Linked DNA regions of Homo sapiens: region 2 is linked to region 1. Evidence: fine-mapped expression QTL. A gene starts in region 1. The other region holds a variant in brackets. All regions are shown on one strand. Distances are from middle to middle.

Region 1 (8,000 bases):
TTTCCACCATGGTCTTCACTCAGGCCCCGGCTGAAATCATGGGCCACCTCCGGATACGCAGCCTCCTGGCCCGGCAGTGCCTGGCAGAGTTTCTGGGTGTGTTTGTACTCATGGTAGGTAGGATCACTGCGGGAAGGAAAGAAGGGGGTTGGGCAAAAGTTCCTGGCTCCTTCTGTTGTCCTTATCTCTTTCTCTTGGTGTCCCCCTTCCTCTCAACTCCCTATCACTTTTCGTTTTTATCCTCTCGTCTCTCCTAATCTCCTTTCCTCTCCTACTTCATCATTTTTATTCTTGTCATTTTTATTCTTTCTTTAATAACAAGTGTATCATAGTTCTTGAAACATAATTTTTCTCTCTTCAGTTTCCCATTTTTATGAAAGACCATTTTCATGGTAAGACCAATGTGCTTTATTATACTTGGCCTGATGATTGTATAAAGTGCAGCAAGAATAATTATTTTTCACATAGGCTTTTAAAATTGGCTTTGATGGAACTCTTCCATAGAAAGAATCTTAGATAAGACTTTTTAAAGCTGAGCCCTGCCATGGGTTTGTACCCTCAAATGCCTATGAGTTGGGTAAATTCTTTTCTTTTTTCCCACATTCTTTCCCTTTCTTCTTCCTCCACTTTCCCCATTTCTTTTCCCTTCCCTCCTTCTGCTTTTCTCCTTCCCTTGCTTGTCTTCTGTGCTCATTCATCTCCTTGGCTGCTCCCCTGGCCTTCCCAACCTTTCTCCCTGTTGGTCTCCTGGGCTCCCTGTTCCTCATCTCTCCTCTTCTCAGCAGCTCCTCACCCAAGGAGCTGTGGCCCAGGCTGTCACCAGTGGAGAAACCAAAGGCAACTTCTTCACCATGTTTCTGGCTGGCTCTCTGGCCGTTACGATAGCCATCTACGTGGGTGGTAACGTCTCAGGTGAGGAGGGTGGGGTCTGGTCATCAGAGCACGTGGGATGTGCATGCCAGTTTGTCTGTCTGGTGATGGTGGAAACGCAAATCCTTCTGTGACTCGTGGACATTATCCCCTTGAACAGTGTCCCAGACTGAAATAAGCCTTTGGCCCCACCAGCCCCTCCTCTTTCTGTATCTCTCCATCCTGCTTCCTCACACTAATGCTTGGCTCACCTAGACAGAAATCAATGGCAGGGCACGAAGGGCAGCTGCTATCCTCTTGTATCCCCCACCTGAAGTCCTCTGGGGGCTCATCTCCACTCAGGACCTCTCCTGTTTGTACCCCAGATACACACTGCATCGGTGTGCTTGGGTGGAGCCTTGAGACATAGTGTGTTGCTGTGGAAAAAGCAGACAGACCTAGGTTCCAACTTTGGATTCACAGTGTCTTCTTCTTTTTTTTTTTTTTTTTTCTTTTTTTTTGAGATGGAGTTTCACTCTGTTGCCCAGGCTGGAGAGCAGTGGTGTGATGTCTGTTCACTGCAACCTCTGCCCCTGGGTTCACGCGATTCTCCTGCCTCAGCATCCCGAATAGCTGATTTTACAGGCACCTGCTACCACGCCTGGCTAATATTTGTGTTTTTAGTGGAAACGGGGTTTCACCATGTTGGCCAGGCTGGTCTGGAATTCCTGACCTCAAGTGATCCACTGCCTCGGCCTCCCAAAGTGCTGGGATTACAGGCGTGAGCCACTGTGCCTGGCCCACAGTGTGACTTTGCTAAGTCACTTAACATCTGTAACATCTGGAGCCTCAATTTCCTAAGCTGTGTGATGAGAATTACACTATCTGCCTTAAGAGCTATAGGAAGGAGCAGTAGTGTTGTCTGGTGACAATGCCTGGCAGTGACACTTAATAGATGCTCTTTTTCTTTCCTTGATACTTGAAGGGGCCCACCTGAATCCAGCCTTCTCCCTGGCCATGTGCATCGTTGGACGCCTCCCCTGGGTCAAGCTCCCCATTTACATCTTGGTGCAGTTGCTGTCTGCTTTCTGTGCTTCGGGAGCCACCTATGTTCTCTACCATGGTGACAGAGGGAACAGAGGGAGCTGTGCCTTGAGAGCACCTGTGGGTGGGCAGGGGTGCCTCAGAATGGTTTTGGATGAATGAGCAAAGAGGGAAATCCTGGGTGTTCCCTTCCTCCACAGATGCCCTACAGAACTATACAGGTGGGAACCTGACAGTGACTGGCCCCAAGGAGACAGCCTCCATTTTTGCCACCTATCCTGCCCCCTATCTGTCCCTGAACAATGGCTTCCTGGATCAGGTAAGTGTGAGGGGGAGACCTGGGGACACTACTTTGGTCCTGTTCCTCGGCACCCCAGCCTATTGTTCAGTCTCTGGGTGGAGTGTGGGTTGGGTCTATCTTGGCACTCCCCACCATCCCCAACTGCCTGTGTTGCACAAAGCCAGATGACATGGAATATTTGGATGAGAGAGGGCAGATGGAGCACCTGGCAGCTGACAGGGAACCCTCTGCCTCTGTTGACTCCAAGGTTCTGGGCACTGGGATGCTGATTGTGGGGCTCTTGGCCATCCTGGACAGACGGAACAAGGGAGTCCCTGCGGGTCTGGAGCCTGTGGTGGTGGGGATGCTGATCCTGGCCCTCGGGTTATCCATGGGTGCCAACTGCGGGATTCCACTCAACCCTGCCCGGGACCTGGGCCCACGTCTCTTCACCTACGTGGCTGGCTGGGGTCCTGAAGTCTTCAGGTGGGAGACAGACTCTCCTGGTGCTGGCCTCCACTCACCTTCCTCTGCTAAGGGCTCTGTCCCTGGGTCCACAGCACTCTGCCTTTAAAATAGCTCTCTTGGCTTCTTAGGACAGTGTTCTTTCTCCAAGTCATATTCTCCCCCTTTCTCCCTTGCTTCCCTCCCAACTTTTCACTGAAACAGTAAGATTTAGAGGTTGTGTTCTTAGGCATGCCACATTACTTCCATGCACATTAGTGACTTCATCAGCAAAATTAATATATTCAGATAATTCCCTAAGGCAAGAGGCTGGACCAAGCTCTCCTGGGGTTCCCTCTTCTAAATACTATGCTTTGGTGACAAGGCAATCCTCTTCCTGGTGTCTACCACCCTGGGAACAACTTTAGGGCACTCTCTTGTTACTGCCCCCCGTCCTTGGAGAGGGGAAGGCTAAGGGAGTCACTCCTGATACCTTCCCACTGTCCTTCTTTTGCAGTGCTGGTAATGGCTGGTGGTGGGTGCCTGTGGTGGCCCCTCTGGTGGGGGCCACCGTTGGCACAGCCACTTACCAGCTGTTGGTGGCTCTGCACCACCCTGAGGGCCCAGAGCCAGCTCAGGATCTGGTGTCTGCTCAACACAAAGCCTCAGAGTTGGAAACTCCTGCCTCAGCTCAGATGCTGGAGTGTAAGCTATGATTAGGACAACCCTCACTTCACTCATGGACCCTGGAGCCAGCCACTGACCCCGCCTGGGAACAACAGTCATTCTTCCTCTTTGTTAATGTGCCAGAACCTGGGAGGCTTCTCTGTTTATCTGTTTGGCATCCCTTCCTCCTAAACTAAGAAGGATCCTGGACAGGGAGAAGTGGAGGAGGATAAGGTACCAGGACTCAGGCTTCTCATCCCCTCCTCCCGCAAAGCGGTTTTCTGACCCTCAGGGCCTCTCGGAATGTAGTTGCTCGAGGTAACCGCTAGAGGGTGCGCACCTGGATGCTGGATGGGGACGGCTGCGGGCATCTGCAGGGTGGAGGGGGCCACCATCCAGTGTAGGGCACAACCCTGGGGACTGCCCTCCATAGCCTGTCCCGACTGCCGACTCCTAGCTCTCATCGCCTCGGCGCCTCCCACCTTCACCCTCTCGGGGATGCCTCCCCAAGAGGGTAGTTAGGGGTGGGGAAGCCGCCTCCACCCAGGGGGCGTGGTGGGGGCGGAGGGAAGGAGGGCGGCGGGGCACAGAGACAGAGAGCAAGGCTGTGAAACTGAGGCACCGTTCCTAGACATCTCGGTGCTGTGTCGTTCATTCAAGGAGAGTTGAGATACAGTGAAATGAGCCAGGGCGAGGAGGGAGGGTGAAGGAACGGAGGGCGGGCGGCTCCGAGGAGCGAGAGTCGGGCTGAGGGCAACCTGGCGCCAGGGAAAATTCTGGTTATTCACCACTTCTACAGCTCTCCTGCCGCTCCCTGCAGAGGATGCTCGTTTTGCAGAGAAGGCAGTGTTCCTCTATTCCCTTCTTCCGAATTAAAAATACCCCCTCAGAGCGATCTAGCCTCCCGAATTGTTTTTTCTTTTAAGATGCGGATGGACGTACGTGTGGGGGCATCCCAGCCCAGCCACGCCGAGGCTCGGAAGGGCTAAGACCCTCCCACTGCCCCGCACAAAGATGGCTGCTCCCTCCTCCCCGCTCCTTCTCCCCTCCCCAAAACCCCCTCCCGCCCCCCGGCCCCCGCCGCCGGCTCCGTCACTTCCGCCCCGCCGTGGCCGAAACTGACACAAAGTAGCGGGCCGAGGCCCCGGGGGAGCGGGGCCGCAGCTGGGGGGGCGGGAGCCCGTGGGGAGCCGAGCCGAGCGCCCCCCGCCCCAGCCCCCGGCATGGGCAGTACGGGGCCGCCGGGGCGGGCGCCGAGCGCTGAGCGCTGAGGTGAGGCGAGGCGAGGCGAAGCGGGGGCGCCCGGGAGCGCGGGGCCAGGAGGGCAGAGGGAGATGCGGCCGCAGCCGCGGGGCTGGAGGGGCCGGGGAGCGGGTGTAGACTGGGGAGCACCGGGGGCCAAGATTTGGGAGCTGCGGCCAGACGGGGCGGGGATGGCGGCCGACTGGAGACGAGGGGCTGTCGGGTTCCCGGGGACGGGGCAGAGCGGGGGTCTGCGTACAGGATGGGAGGATGGGGTGCCGAAGGGGCGCGTGGAGAGCAGGAGAGCGGCGCGAGTGCCAAGGAGAAGCTCGTGCAGCCTTGGCCAGGGGAGACCCGCCCAGAGAGTTGTTGGGCGAGAGGAGTAACCGGGACCCGAGGGTTTGGTGCCTGGAGAAGGGAGTTTGGGCTGGTAGGCTTTGTCTCAGTAAGGTGGAGGTCTATGCCTGAGGAAAACTGAGGGTGTCAGGAAGGGGCAGTAGCTCTGGGAGATGATAGCTGTGCCGGGAGCCCTGAGTTCTGTCCTTGGTGAGGGAAGGTGGCCCGAGCTCGTGTTGGTGGCCAGTGAGCTGGAGGTCTCGAGTTCCATTTCCTCCTGTTTCCCTGACCTGCCATCCTCCTCTGAAAGAAGTGGCCAGCCTTTGGGGCTCTTGCTTGTAAGGGAGCAGGGACCGGACCTATAGGAGGAGCTGTTTTCCTCCATGGAGCATTGCCTGCTTGCCGGGGCTGGCTATTTTTATCCCAAATGTGGCCGAGAGGGGGCTGGGGCTGGGTGACGGGGCAGGGCAACGTGGCTGATGGGCCTGACCTGCTCAGAAAACCCAGGCTGTGTGAGACTAAGAAGGAAAAGTGAGAGGGGATCCCAGTTCCCAGGTCTCTCCTCTCTTCCCCTTGGAATGATGGCCCCCCCAGAGGGGATGAGGTCTGGGGCCAAGCCTGCTTCCAGTCTCCCCAGGGTCTCAGAGGTAGAACAACTTTCCTGGTCCATATCCAGACTCCTGACTCCTGATGGCGTGTGCAGCTCCTACATTAACTCTTTCATGGGACTCAAACTCAGATGTTTAGGCTGATAGTGTTTCTTGATCCCTTCCTCCCCAAGGGCGGGGCTGCCTGTAGAACTTGTGATGCCCACTCTTGCATCCTTTAACCTCTCCCTGTGCTCCCCACCCTCCCGTGACTCATACTCAGACTGGGTGGAGACCCTGGCTGGGGGCCCTGGAGGAGGGCTTGGCATCTCTAAAATATGGATGAGGTTTTTCTTCCTGAGCCAGGCACCCTGGACTGCCATAGTTGGAGAAGGTCAGGGATGAAAAGGACTTCTGGCTTTCAGGATTGCCTGACTTGGTGTAAGGGCGGGATCTGAGCTAGCGAAGGGAGAACTGGTGTGGGTGACTGGGTTGTGGCCAGAATCTGTAATTATAGAGCTTAGCCAGACAGGCAATTAGTATCTCTTGGGGCTGACAGGTTGGTGGGGTGTGCCTGGTAGGCTAAAGGCAGAGGGAACCAAAGAGGATGAGGAGGTGAAAGGCCTTCCACCCAGACAAGGAAAGAGGAGGTGACTGACTGGCAGTTTCCTTTGGGCCAGGCTGGGGAGTAAGGATGAGGCTCTGCCTTGTAAGGCCAGGCCTTGAACCTTTTAGGAGAAAGGACATGGGAAGGCGGAAGCAGGCAGAGGCTTGTCTCACTGGTGCTCCCTAAGCCTGCACCCTGTGCCATACTGACTGGACTAGGCTTGGGGTGGGAGGGAGGGAGGGGCAAACTCCCCACCAGGGTTGGGAAGACCCCTCTGCCAGCCCAGAAGGGTGGCTGACCCAGGCTGAGGGGAAGCTGTTTAGGGACTGTCTGTGCAGAAAGTGAGGGCCATGCCTCTAATGTGAGCTCCCCTGGAGGAGGTGATAATGGAAGCCCTAGTAATGGGGGGTGGGGATGGCAGGGAACTTATAAGCCTTTCGAGAAGGGTGGAGCCTGCCCACCCTGTTTCCTGATGCCCTGCCAGGTGTTTCCTGGCTCATGTTCCCTCCACCCCACCCTTTGGGGAAACTGCTTTCTAGTAAGCACAAGCACTACTCATTGCCGCCAGAACACATGAGAGCCTCCATTGTCCCTGGGATGGATACCTTGAGAGCTGTTCCCCTTTTTTCAATATCTGGCCTCTTCTCCTTTCCCTACAGGCATGGGCTTCTGTAAAGTCTCAGCCCCCCATGTCACCCAAGGCAGGGGCATGATGGGAGGTGGTGGGGAAGTCCCCTCTTTCCCAGGAACCCATCATGGCAGTAAGAGGAGAGACTGGGAGAAGGAGGCTGGGGGAGGGGCAGGGTCAGAGCTGGAGAAGAGGGTCTTCAAAAGAGGTCTCATGAGGGGAGGGAAGGGTTATCCTCAGCTTCCTGACCTCATTCGTCTGTCACTTCTTGCAGGGTCTCCCATGGGATTGCTGGGATCTTGCTGGGTGAGATGGCAGTGTGTGCAAAAAAGCGCCCCCCAGGTAAGACAGGCAAGGAGGGGAGATCCCGGGAACCATCAAGAGTGGGTGTTGTTATGGCTCAGGGAGCAAAAGGAAAAGGGACAACTGGTATGGGTCTGAGGGAGGGTAGCTTACAGCAGCCCCTACCCAGCTTGGGGGCAGCCTAGGAAACCGAATTCTTCCGCTTGATCCCAAAGCTGGGTTATCTGCCAGGACAGCGCAGAGCACCAGCCCCACGCCCCGAAACACCTGCAGTCTTATCTTCGGGCACCTGCAGCTCCTGCTTTCTGGCCTAGGGAGCTGTGTTCTCATCTCTGCTTGGTCCTCTCACCCCTTCCCTGCTCCCCTCGTTTTTCCATCTACCGGTTCTCCTGGTTTTTCCGCGGGCGGGGGTGTGTGTGTGTGAAAGCGGTTGCCCCCGACAACGCCGGCAGTCCGCTCACCCGCATTGGCCCGGCCCGGGGGTGGGAGGGGAGGCGGGGCTCGCGCGCGAGCTTTCGCCTACGCGGCGCGCTGGCAGGCTGCGGCTCCTGCAGTCGGGGAGCGGGCGGGGGCGGAACCCTGGGCGTGCTCGGCGTGTCCGGGGCCACTCAGCGCACGCTGGCATCCGCCGGGGGGCATGGGGGGCGGCGGCGGCGGCGCAGCTGAGCTCGCGGTGTCCCCGAGCGCCGGCGGCCGGGAGGATGGCCTGGGCTGCGGGTGGGGCGCGCGCCCGACGGCTGGGGCTCCCCTCTGAGCGGCTGCGGCTCCTGCACCTCCCCGGGGAGCCGCCCCGTCGATGCCACTAAGGCCAAGGACATATAGACGGTCTGCCCTCCCCCACTCAAACCGGGATCATGACGGTCCCCAAGGAGATGCCCGAGAAGTGGGCCCGGGCCCAGGCGCCTCCCTCTTGGAGCCGAAAGAAGCCCTCTTGGGGGACAGGTAACGGGAGGCAGCGCCTGGCAGCTCTCCCGCACCCATTATTTCCCCCCTCCAATCCCTACATTCACTTGT
Region 2 (11,937 bases), 35 kb after region 1:
CTCCACTAGGACGACCCACCACCACCTGTTATTCAACATACCCCACACTGAACATTGTTTTTCCCAACACCTGTTGCTCCTCCCGCATCCTCTATTTCAGTGAGCAGCACGCGATCTCACCAGTCACCAAAGCCAGACACACATGTCCTGGAGAAAACCCTACAACCTCTGCTCTGGGGCCACCACACTGTAAATCATATATTTCATCTTCTTTGATGTGGAGCATGAAATGATTAAGCTGCAATGTCCTGAGCCACTGTTTCCCAGTGATTGTGACCCAGGCAGGGTCACGACAGCCATATTTCTGTCCCCAAAGCGGGGCCATCTAGGTTGGGACTCAAAACACAAAGAAATTCTGCCACAAAGGTTCAATGTCACTTTCCTTGGCCCCAAAAGAGAAACTGGAGAGACCAGAGTGCTCAGATTAGGTAGGCAGCTGCAGCCTCCCACTGTAGCCACCCTGCAGAGCATGAGGGAGGGACTCACTGATAAAGCACCAGGACTACCCACTGCAGTCTCTACTTCAGAGGAAGCAAGCCATTGATGGAGATGTACTAAACACTGGGCTCTGCGGCTGAAGGAAGGAGCTGAGTTCTCCTGCTTATCTCTGCTCCAGTGTCCTATCTTGAAGGACTGTGTCCTGACCCCAGTGAGAAACATGACCTGTCTGACCCTCCCAACCCTTCCTGGAAACTTTCCAGTTCTCAGTGAGTTGCTGGGAGCTGCCCTGCTGGACACCCGCCTGGGGAGGGTGTAGACTTATCTTGCCGGGCTGAGAGAGGGAAGTCTTTCCCAATACTAGTCTATTAAAACACACACTGGGCTGGGCGCAGTGGCTCACGCCTGTAATCCCAGCACTTTGGGAGGCCAAGGCGGGTGGATCATCTGAGGTCAGGAGTTCGAGACCAGCCTGACTAAAATGGCTTCACCCTGTCTATACGAAAAATACAACAAATTAGCTGGGCATGGGGGCAGACGCCTGTAATCCCAGCTACTCAGGAGGCTGAGGCAGGAGAATTACTTGAACCTGGGAGGCGGAGGTTGCATTGAGCTAAGATCAGGCCGTTGCACTCTAGCCTGGGCAACAAGAGCGAAACTCCATCTAAAAAAACCAAAACACACACACACACACACACACACACACACACACACACACACACACACACACAGTGGCCCGGCATGGTGGCTCATGCCTGTAACCCCAGCACTTTGGGAGGTCAAGGTGGGCAGATCGCCTGAGGCCAGGAGTTCGAGACCAGTCTGGCCAACATGGTGAAACCCTGTCTCTACTAAAAATACAAAAATTAGCTGGGTGTCCTGGCGTGCCCCTGTAATCTCGGCTACTCAGGAGGCTGAGGCAGGAGAATGGCTTGAACCCAGGAGGCAGAGGTTGCAGTGAGCAGAGATCGCGCCACTATACTCCAGCCTGGGCGACAGAGTAAGTCTCCTTCTAAAAAAATAAAATAACAAAACAAAACACACACACACTTTCCCTCTCTCTCTCTCTCCAAAACGTGATGGAGTGTCTCCTCTTAAGAAAGGAGTGTTTTTGGACACAGAAAGAGGGAGTTCCTCCAGCCTAGCACAGCCTGAGTTTGGCCTGGGCTGGAAATTCTGCAGAAATCTTCCATCCTGCCACTGGGAATAGGACAGGGAGGCCTAAGCCGTGTTTTCGGCCCCCCGGGGCCCAGCAGGGACATGTGTGGGTTCCAGGACTGGGGCAAGGAGGAGAGGATGCCCAGGTTTACTCAAGGGCAGGCAGGAGGTGAGGAGGGGGTGACAGGTGGAAGGAAAGGACCATGTCCCACTCTCCACTCCTTCCTCATGGGCCACTCTTCATTTCACTCGCAGCCCCGCAGTGCACAGCTACAAGCTGGGGGTTCATCTCTTCCTGGTCCCCTACTACCTTGGGTGCAGCTCTTCTGCCAGAACCTTCTGGGCGCCTGCTGCTGTGCCTGGGCTCCCCACGCAGGGAGGGACACCCCTGGGGCGGAAGGCAGGCAGCTGCATAGCTGAGTGGCTGCTTCTACAACACCTGGAGAACCGCTGGGGCTAGAAGCAAACATGCAGCAGTTTGGGCCTGGGGGTTGATTCTCCTCTGCAGGGGAAGGGAAGATTTCTAGAAACGCAGAAAGTCTATTCTGTGGAGGTACAAAGGATACCAGAAGACTATAGGAGACATCCTTAGTACCCCCAGATGCTGGCTGTTCTCTAGGTCTACCCTCACACAAAGAAGTGGGTGAGACAACCTTGGACCCCGGCTTTGGATCCAGCATAGTAGAACCGGCCAGCTTGCCCTGTCATGTTTTCTGCAATGTCTGGGACTGCGGTTCTTCATACTTTTGGCTCAGGTTCACCTCTGAAAATCCAGTGAAGCCATGTGATGAAATGCTTATGTGCTTTTACAAAGTGCATGCAGTTTAATAGGCTCCTCAGCTGTTCACCTAGGGATGCTTCAGGCAGCCCTGCCCTGAATGTTCATGGGACTCAGGGCAAGTAGCAAATGGAGGCCCACGTACCACGTGTCTGAGTACAGAGGAGTTATGAGATCAAAGTAGGCTGTGTCTTCCTACCTTGACAGATATATCTTCCTAACAACTTGGAATGTCAGTTTAAATTTAGAACCTGCCCCTTTGGCCTCCCAGCCCCCAGCCTGCCCCTCCTCTTCCCACTTCCCTCCCTGTCCCATTCTACACTGTGAGGGTCCTTGCTTCTGCAGCACACCCCAGCACACAAGTCCAAGTTCCACCTGCACCCCTGCAAACAGCTGTTCCTGGCCACTTACTGGAGCCAGGTGTGCACACTGGCAGATGGGTCTGTTTGCCAGAGAATACCTGAAGCAGAAGGCTGCAGAGTCCTTGGAAATGAACTCAACACCATTTGGATAGAAAAATGCCAGAGTCTAGAATAGTGCTTCAGGTGAATAACCAGCTTTTAAAGTTTCCAATCTGTTAAATTTCTTTCCTTTTTTTTTTTGAGTTGGAGTCTCTGTCACCCAGGCTGGAGTGTAGTGGCACTATCTTGGCTCACTGCAACCTCTGCCTCCTGGATTCAAGCAATTCTCCTGCCTTAGCCTCCTAGGTAGCTGGGATTACAGATGTGTGCCACTACACCAGGCTAATTTTTGTATTTTTAGTAGAGATGGGTTTTTGCCATGTTTGCCAGGCTGGTTTCGAACTC[C/G]TGACCTCAAGTGAGCTGCCCACCTCAGCCTCCCAAAGTGCTGGGATTACAGGTGTGAGCCACCGTGCCCAGCCTTTCTTTCCCTTCTTGAAAAGTAAATAAATAAATAAAATTTCCAATCTGTGATAGGCTGGCTGATACTTTTATAAAATACAATGAAAACAAATTCCTGGAAAATGGAAAATGATCAGGAGCTTGGATGTTGCAGCAAAGTAAAATTGTGATAAAAGTTTCTAAATGCTTGGTGTTTCATTTCATTTCATTTCTTTTTTTCTTTTCTTTTTTTTTTTTTTTTTTGAGACGGAGTCTCCCTCTTGCACCCAGGCTGGAGTGCAGTGGCACGATCTCGGCTCACTGCAACCTCCACCTCCTGGGTTCAAGTGATTCTCCTACCTCAGCCTCCCGAGTAGCTGGGACTACAGGTGCCCACCACCACACCCGGGTAATTTTTTGTATTTTTAGTAGAGATGGGGTTTCACTGTGTTAGTCAGGATGGTCTCGATCTCCTGATTTTGTGATCCGCCCGCCTCGGCCTCCCAAAGTGCTGTGATTACAGGTGTGAGCCACTGCACCTGGCCTAATTTTTGTATTTTTAATAGAGACGGGGTTTTGCCATGTTGGCCAGGCTGGTCTCGAACTCCTGATCTCATGTGATCCACCTGCCTCAGCCTCCCAGAGTGCTGGGATTACAGGTGTGAGCCACTGCACCCTGCTGCTTTTCTTTTCTTTCTTTTTTTTTGAGATGGAGTTTCACTCTTGTTACCCAGGCTGGAGAGCAATGGTGCGATCTCTGCTCACTGCAACCTCTGCCTCCCGGGTTCAAATGATTCTCCTGCCTCAGCCTCCTGAATAGCTGGGATTACAAGCATGGGCCACCGTGGCCGGCTAAGTTTTTTGTATTTTTAGTAGAGACGAGATTTCTCCATGTTGGTCAGGCTGGTCTTGAACTCCCAACCTCAGGTGATCTGCATGCCTCAGCCTCCCAAAGTTCTGGCATTACAGGAGTGAGCCACTGCGCCCGGTGCCCTGCTGCTTTTCATTTCTTTCTTTCTTTTTTTTTTTTTTGAGATGGAGTTTTGCTCTTGTTGCCCAGGCTGGAGTGCAATGGCATTATCTCAGCTCACCGCAACCTCCGCCTCCCGGGTTCAAGAAATTCTCCAGCCTCAGCCTCCCGAGTAGCTGCGATTACAGGCATGTGCCACCATGCCTGGCTAATTTTGCATTTTTAATAGAGACAGGGTTTCTACTGGTCAGTCTGGTCTCAAACTCCCGACCTCAGGCGATCCGCCAGCCTCGGCCTCCCAAAGTGCTGGGATTACAGGCGTAAGCCACAGCGCCTCGCCTCTGCTGCTTTTCATTTCTATACTTGGCTCATTGTGGTCCAGTAACAAGCCATCTGTTGAATGGCAGCAGTTCAAGGGCCACAATTTGAGTGTGCTGGTCTAGAAGGAGGCAGTGTGGGCTCCAGCTGGGCAAGTCCAGTCGGCCCCTTTGACTCATCATTTTATGGGAGGGGTATGGCCAGAAGAGGGCTCATGGTGGTGGTGGTGAGGGGAGCTCCCTAGATCAGCCTGCATCAGTAGCCTTTCTTGTCTGAGTTTGGGTGGTATTGTCAGAGGCATTTGAACCAGAGCAACTCCATCTTGAATAGGGTCTGGGTAACATAAGGCTGAGACCTACTGGGCTGCATTTCCAGGAGATCAGACATTCTTAGTTATAGGATGAGCTAGGAGGTCAGCACAAGATACAGGTCACAAAGACCTTGCTGATAAAATAGGATGCAGTAAAGAAGCCAGCCAAAAGCCACCAAAACCAAGATGGTGACACAAGTGATCTCCGGTTGTCCTCACTGCTCATTATGTGCTAATTATTAGCATGCTAAAAGACATTCCCACCTGCGCCATGACAGTTTACAAATGCCATGGCAGTGTCTGGAAGTTACCCTATATGGTAAAAAAAGGGGAGGAACACTCCCCTCAGTTCCAGGAATTGCCCACCCTTTCCTGGAAAACTCATGAATAATCCACCCCCTGTTTAGCACATAACCAAGAAGTAACTATAAGTATAATCAATTGTTACTTGATTAGTCTGTTCTCATGTTGCTAATAAAGACATACCCAGGACTGGGTAATTTATAAAGGAAAGAGGTTTAATTGACCCACAGTTCAGCATGGCTGGGGAGGCCTCAGGAAACTTGCAATCATTGCAGATGGGAAAGCAAACATGTCCTTCTTCACATGGTGGCAGCCAGGGCAAGAATGAGAGCCCAGTGAAGGGGGAAGCCCCTTATAAAACCATCAGATCTTGTGAGTACTTACTATCATGAGAATAGAATAGGGGAAACGGCCTCCATGATCAATTACCTCCCACCAGGTCCCTCCCATAACAAGTGGAGATTATGGGAACTACAAGATGAGATTTGGGTGGGGACACAGCCAAACCATATTATCAGTTGAGCAGCCCATGCCACTGCTCTACCTATGGAATAGCCATTCTTTTATTCTTTTACTTTCTTTTTTTTTTTTTGAAACAGAGTCTCACTCTGTCACCCAGGCTGGAGTGCAGTGGTGTCATCTCACTGCAACCCTTTACTGCAACCTCTGGGTTCAAGCGATTCTCGTGCGTCAGCCTCCCAAGTAAATGGGATTACAGGAATGAACCATTATACCTGGGTAATTTTTGTATTTTTACTAGAGTCAGGGTTTCGCCATGTTGCCCAGGCTGGTCTCAAGCTCCTGAGCTCGAATGATCAGCCTGCCTCAGCCTCCCAAAGTGCTGGGATAACAGGCATGAGCCATGGTGCCTGGCCTATTCCTTTACTTTCTTAATAAACTTGCTTTCACTTTACTCTATTGATTTGCCTCAAAATCTTTCTTTCTCGAGATCTAAGAACCCTCTGCTGGGGTCCGGATTGGGACCCCTTTCTGGTAATAGCATAAGGGAGGGATGTAGTGGGATGTAGACCCTTGAACTGCGTGGAATTCTAGCATGATTTATCAAGAAGTCTGAAGTATCATCTCATATCATGGTGCTAAGTCTCCACTGGGCCAGTGGCCAATGACAGGCAAGGGAATCAAAGGCAGGGTATGTATTCATAAATGAGGAAACCTATTATATGACAGAAGAGCTTAATTCTTATTCTTCTAATTTAAAAAGTTGTTTTTTTTTCAGGATGGGGTCTTGCTATGTTGCCCAGTCTGTTCTCCAACTCCTGGCCTCAAGCAATCCTCCCACCTCATCCTCCTAAGTAGGTGGGATTACAGGTTTGTACTACATGCTGGGCTGAAAACTTTTTGATACCAAAATTTTGATTTGGTTTTTAATATTTGATGTATAGGTACAGAAGAATGCTACAAGCATCAAAGTTCAAGTAAGCTAGGTGTGTCAAAATAAATCTTTAGATAAATAAGGCTGTGCTATGAAATAAATTGTATCCCCCCCAATTCATATGTTGAAATCATAACCCCTATGTGACTGTATTTGTTTTTGTTTGTTTATTTTGTTTTGATTTTGAGACAGTATCACTCTATCACCCAGGCTGGAGTATAGTGGCATAGTCTCAGCTGACTGCAATCTCTGCTTCTGGGGCTCAAACCATCCTCCTGCATCCGCCTCCTGAGTAGCTGGAACTACAGGCATGCACCACCATGCCTAGATAATTTTTGTAGAGACAGGGTCTTGCCATGTTGTCCAGTCTTGTCTCAAATTCCTGAACTCAAGTGATCTGCCTGCTTTGGCCTCCCAAAGTGTTGGGATTACAGGTATGAGCCACTGTGCCTGGCCAGTATTTTGTTACAGCAGCTGGAGTTGACTAATACAGACTGATTGGATAGCTTTAGTTCATCCTAGAGGACAGGTCTTGAGCTGGGCATGGTGGTGCGCATCTGTGGTCCCAGCTACTTGAGAGGTTGAGGCAGGAGAATTGCTTGAACCTGGGAGGCAGAGGTTGCAGTGAGCTGAGGTCGCGCCACTGCACTCCAGCCTGGGCGACATGAGCAAAACAACTCCATCTCAAAAAAAGACAGAAAAAAAGAAAAAAAAGAGAAGAAGAAGAAGAAAAAAGACAGCTTTGCTTTTTACCTTCTTCTAATTTTATTACCATGTGGAAAGTATTGTTTGCATAATATTAGTTTATCCAAGACTTTATTTTTGCAAAGTTTAATTAATCTGAGCTTTCTAAATTTCCTTTGCTGGCTTTACTGGTCAGATAAGCTACTTTACTTCCACTAAATATTTCAGAAGGAGAGTATAAACAACTGTACTCACCTAAATGGAATGATAACTACTAATAAATGTTTTTATAAAAAGACATTCTGGCCAGTCATGGTGGCTCATCCCTGTAATCCCAGCATTTTGGGAGCCTGAGGCGGGAGGATCACTTGAACCCAGGAGTTCAAGACCAGCCTGGACAACGTGGTGAGACCCCGTCTCTGGAAAAAATACAAAGATTAGCCTCCAGTCCCAGCTACTGGAGGGTGCAGGGCCGGGGGTGGGGGCTGAGTTGGGAGGATCGCTTGAACCCAGGAGGTCAAGGTTGCAGTGATTGCGCCGCTGCACTTCAGCCTGGTGACAGAGCAAGACCCTGTCTCAAAAAATGAAAAATAAAAAGACCTTCTGATGTTTTCAGACACTGTGACCCATCAATCTGTGAAAGGAAGATAAATCTCAGGACCCCAAAATCACTAAGCCAAGGGAAAAGTCAAGCTGGGAATTGCATCAGGCAGAACTGCCTCCCATTTTATTGCTAAATGAGATAGCTACAAAGATAAAAGAGCTACATACCTCCCTCACAATTTGTCCACAAGGAAATTCCTTGCGGGCCTCAAAATCTTTATCCTAAAATAGTTCTGTTGAATTTCACCCTGGCAATGTAAACCGTTAGCTTATTTTCACAGGTACAGGACAGAAAGTCATCCCTCTGCTGACTTGAGACAAATGCTTATCTTATTGCTTCCTCTGCCCTATTGTTAATGTAAAAATGCAGATTCACTAAGCCAGAATAAATTGTGTATTCAGTGAAAGGCTGATCAAGGACTGAAAAGAATACAACCTTTTTTGTCTTATCTACCTATGACCTGGAAGCGCTCCCCCACTTCGATTTGTCCCTCTTCACCAGACAGAACCAATGTACATCTTGCACATATTGATTGATGTCTCGTGGCTCCCTAAAATGTGTAAAAGGCTATACCCCGACCACCTTGGGACCACCTTGTCCTCAGGACCTCTGGAGGCTGTGTCATGGGTGTGTCCTTAACCTTGGCAAAATAAACTTTCTTTTTTTTTTTTTTTTTTTTGAGACAGAGTCTTGCTCTGTCGCCCAGGCTGGAGTGCAGTGGCGCAATCTCAGCTCACTGCAACCTCCACCTCCTGGGTTCACGCCATTCTCCTGCCTCAGCCTCCCAAGTAGCTGGGACTACAGGCGCCCACCACCACACCCAGCTTATCTTTTGTATTTTTAGTAGAGACGGGGTTTCACCATGTTAGCCAAGGTGGTCTCGATCTCCTGACCTCATGATCCACCCGCCTTGGCCTCCCAAAGTGCTGGGATTACAGGCGTGAGCCACCGCACCCGGCCAGCAAAATAAACGTCCTAAATTGGTTGAGGCCTGTCTCAGATACTTTGGGTTTACAAATCTAAATCATTCTGCATGTCATCAACTGATAGTTTTCACTGTCCTCTCACACAAGCCTCAGGGCCCTTGCTGTATGCTACAGACCCCATTAGGGTCTTCTGGAAGAAACATCCTAGAAAGATAACCTTAGGAACGTAGAGGAAAGAATGAAACAAAGGACCGGAGACTCAGAATTCCTAGGATCATTTCAGTTCCGCAGTAGGTGACCTCATGACGTCAGGCTACTGACGCAAAACCACTAGAATGAAAATTAATTCCACGAGACTCAGACTGTTGAGCACATTTACTTGAACTGTATTCACCATTATTACTTGGCTACCAGTATGTAAAAGACTTTTGATGAGAATGGTGGTATTAACAAATGTGATTTTTTTGACATTGTATGATGAATTATCTCAATAATCTTTATAACTTAGTGACCCAGTATTTTCCAAATAACCAATGCATGATGTTACAAAATTTTGTATAGTAAAAAAAAAAAAAACAACGTGCAAGATAGAACAATGGATTTTAATGAACAAAAAAATATGAAAACTTAGCTGGGTGTGGTGGCTCACACCTGTAATCCCAGCAGTTTGGGAGGCCAAGGTGGGTGGATCATGAGGTCAGGAGTTTGAGACCAGCCTGGCCAATATGGTGAAACCGTCTCTACTAAGAAAAATTTAAAGATTAGCTGGGTGTGGTGACGTGCACCTGTAATCCCAGCTACTCAGGAGGCTGAAGCAGGAGAATCACTTGAACCCAGGAGGCGGAGGTTGCAGTGAGCCAAGATCACGCCACTGGACTCCAGCCTGGGTGACAGAGGAGACTCCGTCTCAAAAAAAAAAAAAAAAAAAGAAAACTTTATGAATTCGAAATTTGGTTTCAGATTCCATATTGCAACTAGTCCTTAAGGAAATACCACTTGTTGGCCAGGTGCAGGAGCTCATGCCTGTAATCCTAGCACTTTGGGAGTCCGAGGTGGGTGGATTGCTTGAGGCCAAGAGTTCGAGACCAGAGTGGGCAACAAAGTGAGAGCACTGTTGCTAAAAAAAATAAAACAATTAGGCCAGGGGAGGTGGCTTATGCCTGTAATCCTAGTACTATGAAAGGCCAAGGCAGGCAGATCTCTTGAGCCTAGGAGTTTGAGGCCAGCCTGGGCAACACGACAAAAGCCGGTCTCATACAAAAATTAGCTGGGTGTAGTGGTGCACACCAGTATTCCCAGTTATTAATACTTGGGGGGTGCTGAGGCAGGAGGATTGCTTGAGCCTAGGAGGCAGAGTTTGCAGTGAGCCAAGATCAGCCATTGCACTTCAGCCTGGGCAAAAGAGACCCTGTCTCGAAAAAAAAAAAATTAGTTGGGTGTGGTGGTGTATACCTGGAGTCTTTGCTACTTGGAGGCTAAGGCAGGCAGAACACGTGAGTCCAGGAGATGGAGGCTACAGCGAACCATGATCATACAACTGCACTCCAGCCTGGAAGATAGAGTGAGACCTTTGTTAAAAATAAATAAAATGAAATAAACTACCACTTGTTGAGTTTTACATAAAAAAAAATCCACAATTATCTGAAAAGGCTATTAAAATTCTCCATTTTCCAACTACATATCTATGTAGGGCCAAACTTTCTTCGTATAATTCAACTAAAACATCATATAGGAACAGATTGAATATAGAAGCCAAAATTAGATTCATATTGTCTTTTATAAGTCAGACATTAAAGTAAAAGCAAAAACTGTAAAACAATGTCTCTCTTATTTCTCTTTATTTTAAACAAAAATTTGGCGGGGCACAGTGGCTCATGCCTGTAATCCCAGCATTTTGAGAGGCCGAGGGAGGCAGATCATCTGAGGCTGGGAGTTCAAGAGCAGCCTGGCCAACATGGCAAAACCCTGTCTCTACTAAAAAACTAGCCAGGCATGGTGGCATGCACCTGTAATTCCAGCTACTCGGGAGGCTGAGGCAGCTGAGGCAGGAGAATTGTTTGAACCCAGGAGTCAGAGGTTGCAGTGAGCCGAGATCACACCACGGCACTCCAGCCTGGGTGACAGAGTGAGACTCTGTCTCAAAAAAAGAAAAAAACACCAAAAACGACAAAATTTAAAAATATACATTTGTAGTGGTTTAATTGTTATTATTTCAGATTTCATAAAAATATTAATGAATTAATATTTTAAATTCTCAATTTTAATATCTTTTTGTTTTGTTTTGATTTTTGAGACAGAATCTCACTCTGTCGCCCAGGTTGGAGTGCAGTGGTGCAATCTCAGCTCATTGCAACCTCCGTTTCCCAGATTCAAGTGATTCTCTTGACTCAGCCCCCCAAGTAGTTGTGACTACAGGTGTGTACCACCACACCCAGCCAATTTTTGTACTTTTAGTGGAGATAGGGTTTCACCATGTTGGCCAGGCTAGTCTTGAACCCCCGGCCTCAAGTGATCTGCCCTCCTCGGCCATCCAAAGTGCTGGGATTATAGGCGTGTGCCACTGTGCCCACACAATTTTTTTTTTTTTTTTTGAGACAGAGTCTCTGTCACCCAGGCTGGAGTGCAGTGGTGAGATCTTGGCTCACTGCAACCTCCACTTCCCAGGCTCAAGTGATTCTCCCACTTTAGCCTCCTGAGTAGCTGGTTCTACAGGCGCACGTTACCACATCGGGCTAATTTTTGCATTTCTCGTAGAGACAAGGTTTCACCATGTTGGCCAGGCTGGTCTCGAACTCCTGATCACCTTGACCTCCCAAAGTGCTGGGATTACAGATGTGAGCCACCAGTCCTGGCCTGTGCCTGGACACTTTTAATTTCTAATATGGTAAATATTCTTAGACATAACTCACATAAACAAAGGCTCGTTGGAGTCCTCAATATTTTTAAAATTGTGGTAAAATAGAGAACATAAAATTTACCATTGTAACCATTTCAAAGTGTACAACCCAGTGGCTTTGTTCAACCGTTACCTTTTTTTTTTTTTTTTTTTTTTTTTTTTGATATGAAGTCTTGCTCTGTCACCCAGGCTGGAGTGCCATGGTGTGATCTCGGCTCACTGCAACCTCCGCCTCCTGGGTTCAAGCAATTACTCTGCCTCAATCTCCCAAGTAGCTGGTACTACAGGCGCCCACCACCATGCCCGGCTAATTTTTGTAT

The links. PIP is the estimated chance that this variant, and not a neighbour inherited with it, causes the effect.
Region 2: its variant is the best candidate, but not a certain one, in a credible set for the expression of ATP8B2 in monocytes after R848 (Quach 2016, PIP 0.51).

What each region holds. Positions count from the first base shown.
Region 1 is chr1:154,321,148-154,329,147 of GRCh38, forward strand. ATP8B2 (ATPase phospholipid transporting 8B2) reads left to right here and starts at 4,378. Exons shown (of 28, transcript NM_001370597.1): 1 at 4,378-4,555; 2 at 6,958-7,025. The coding sequence starts at 6,995. It overlaps AQP10 (aquaporin 10), which reads left to right. Exons shown (of 6, transcript NM_080429.3): 1 at 1-113; 2 at 786-912; 3 at 1,835-1,972; 4 at 2,094-2,212; 5 at 2,442-2,659; 6 at 3,135-4,178. The coding sequence starts at 9. The coding sequence ends at 3,333. RefSeq lists enhancers at 3,339-3,418, 5,539-5,718 and silencers at 3,859-3,938, 4,369-4,598, 4,649-4,798, 7,358-7,817.
Region 2 is chr1:154,354,104-154,366,040 of GRCh38, forward strand. No RefSeq gene overlaps it. Among named protein-coding and RNA genes, the nearest start is that of ATP8B2, 35 kb to the left of the region's middle. RefSeq lists a silencer at 7,957-8,157. The variant C/G (reference allele first, on the strand shown) is at 3,181.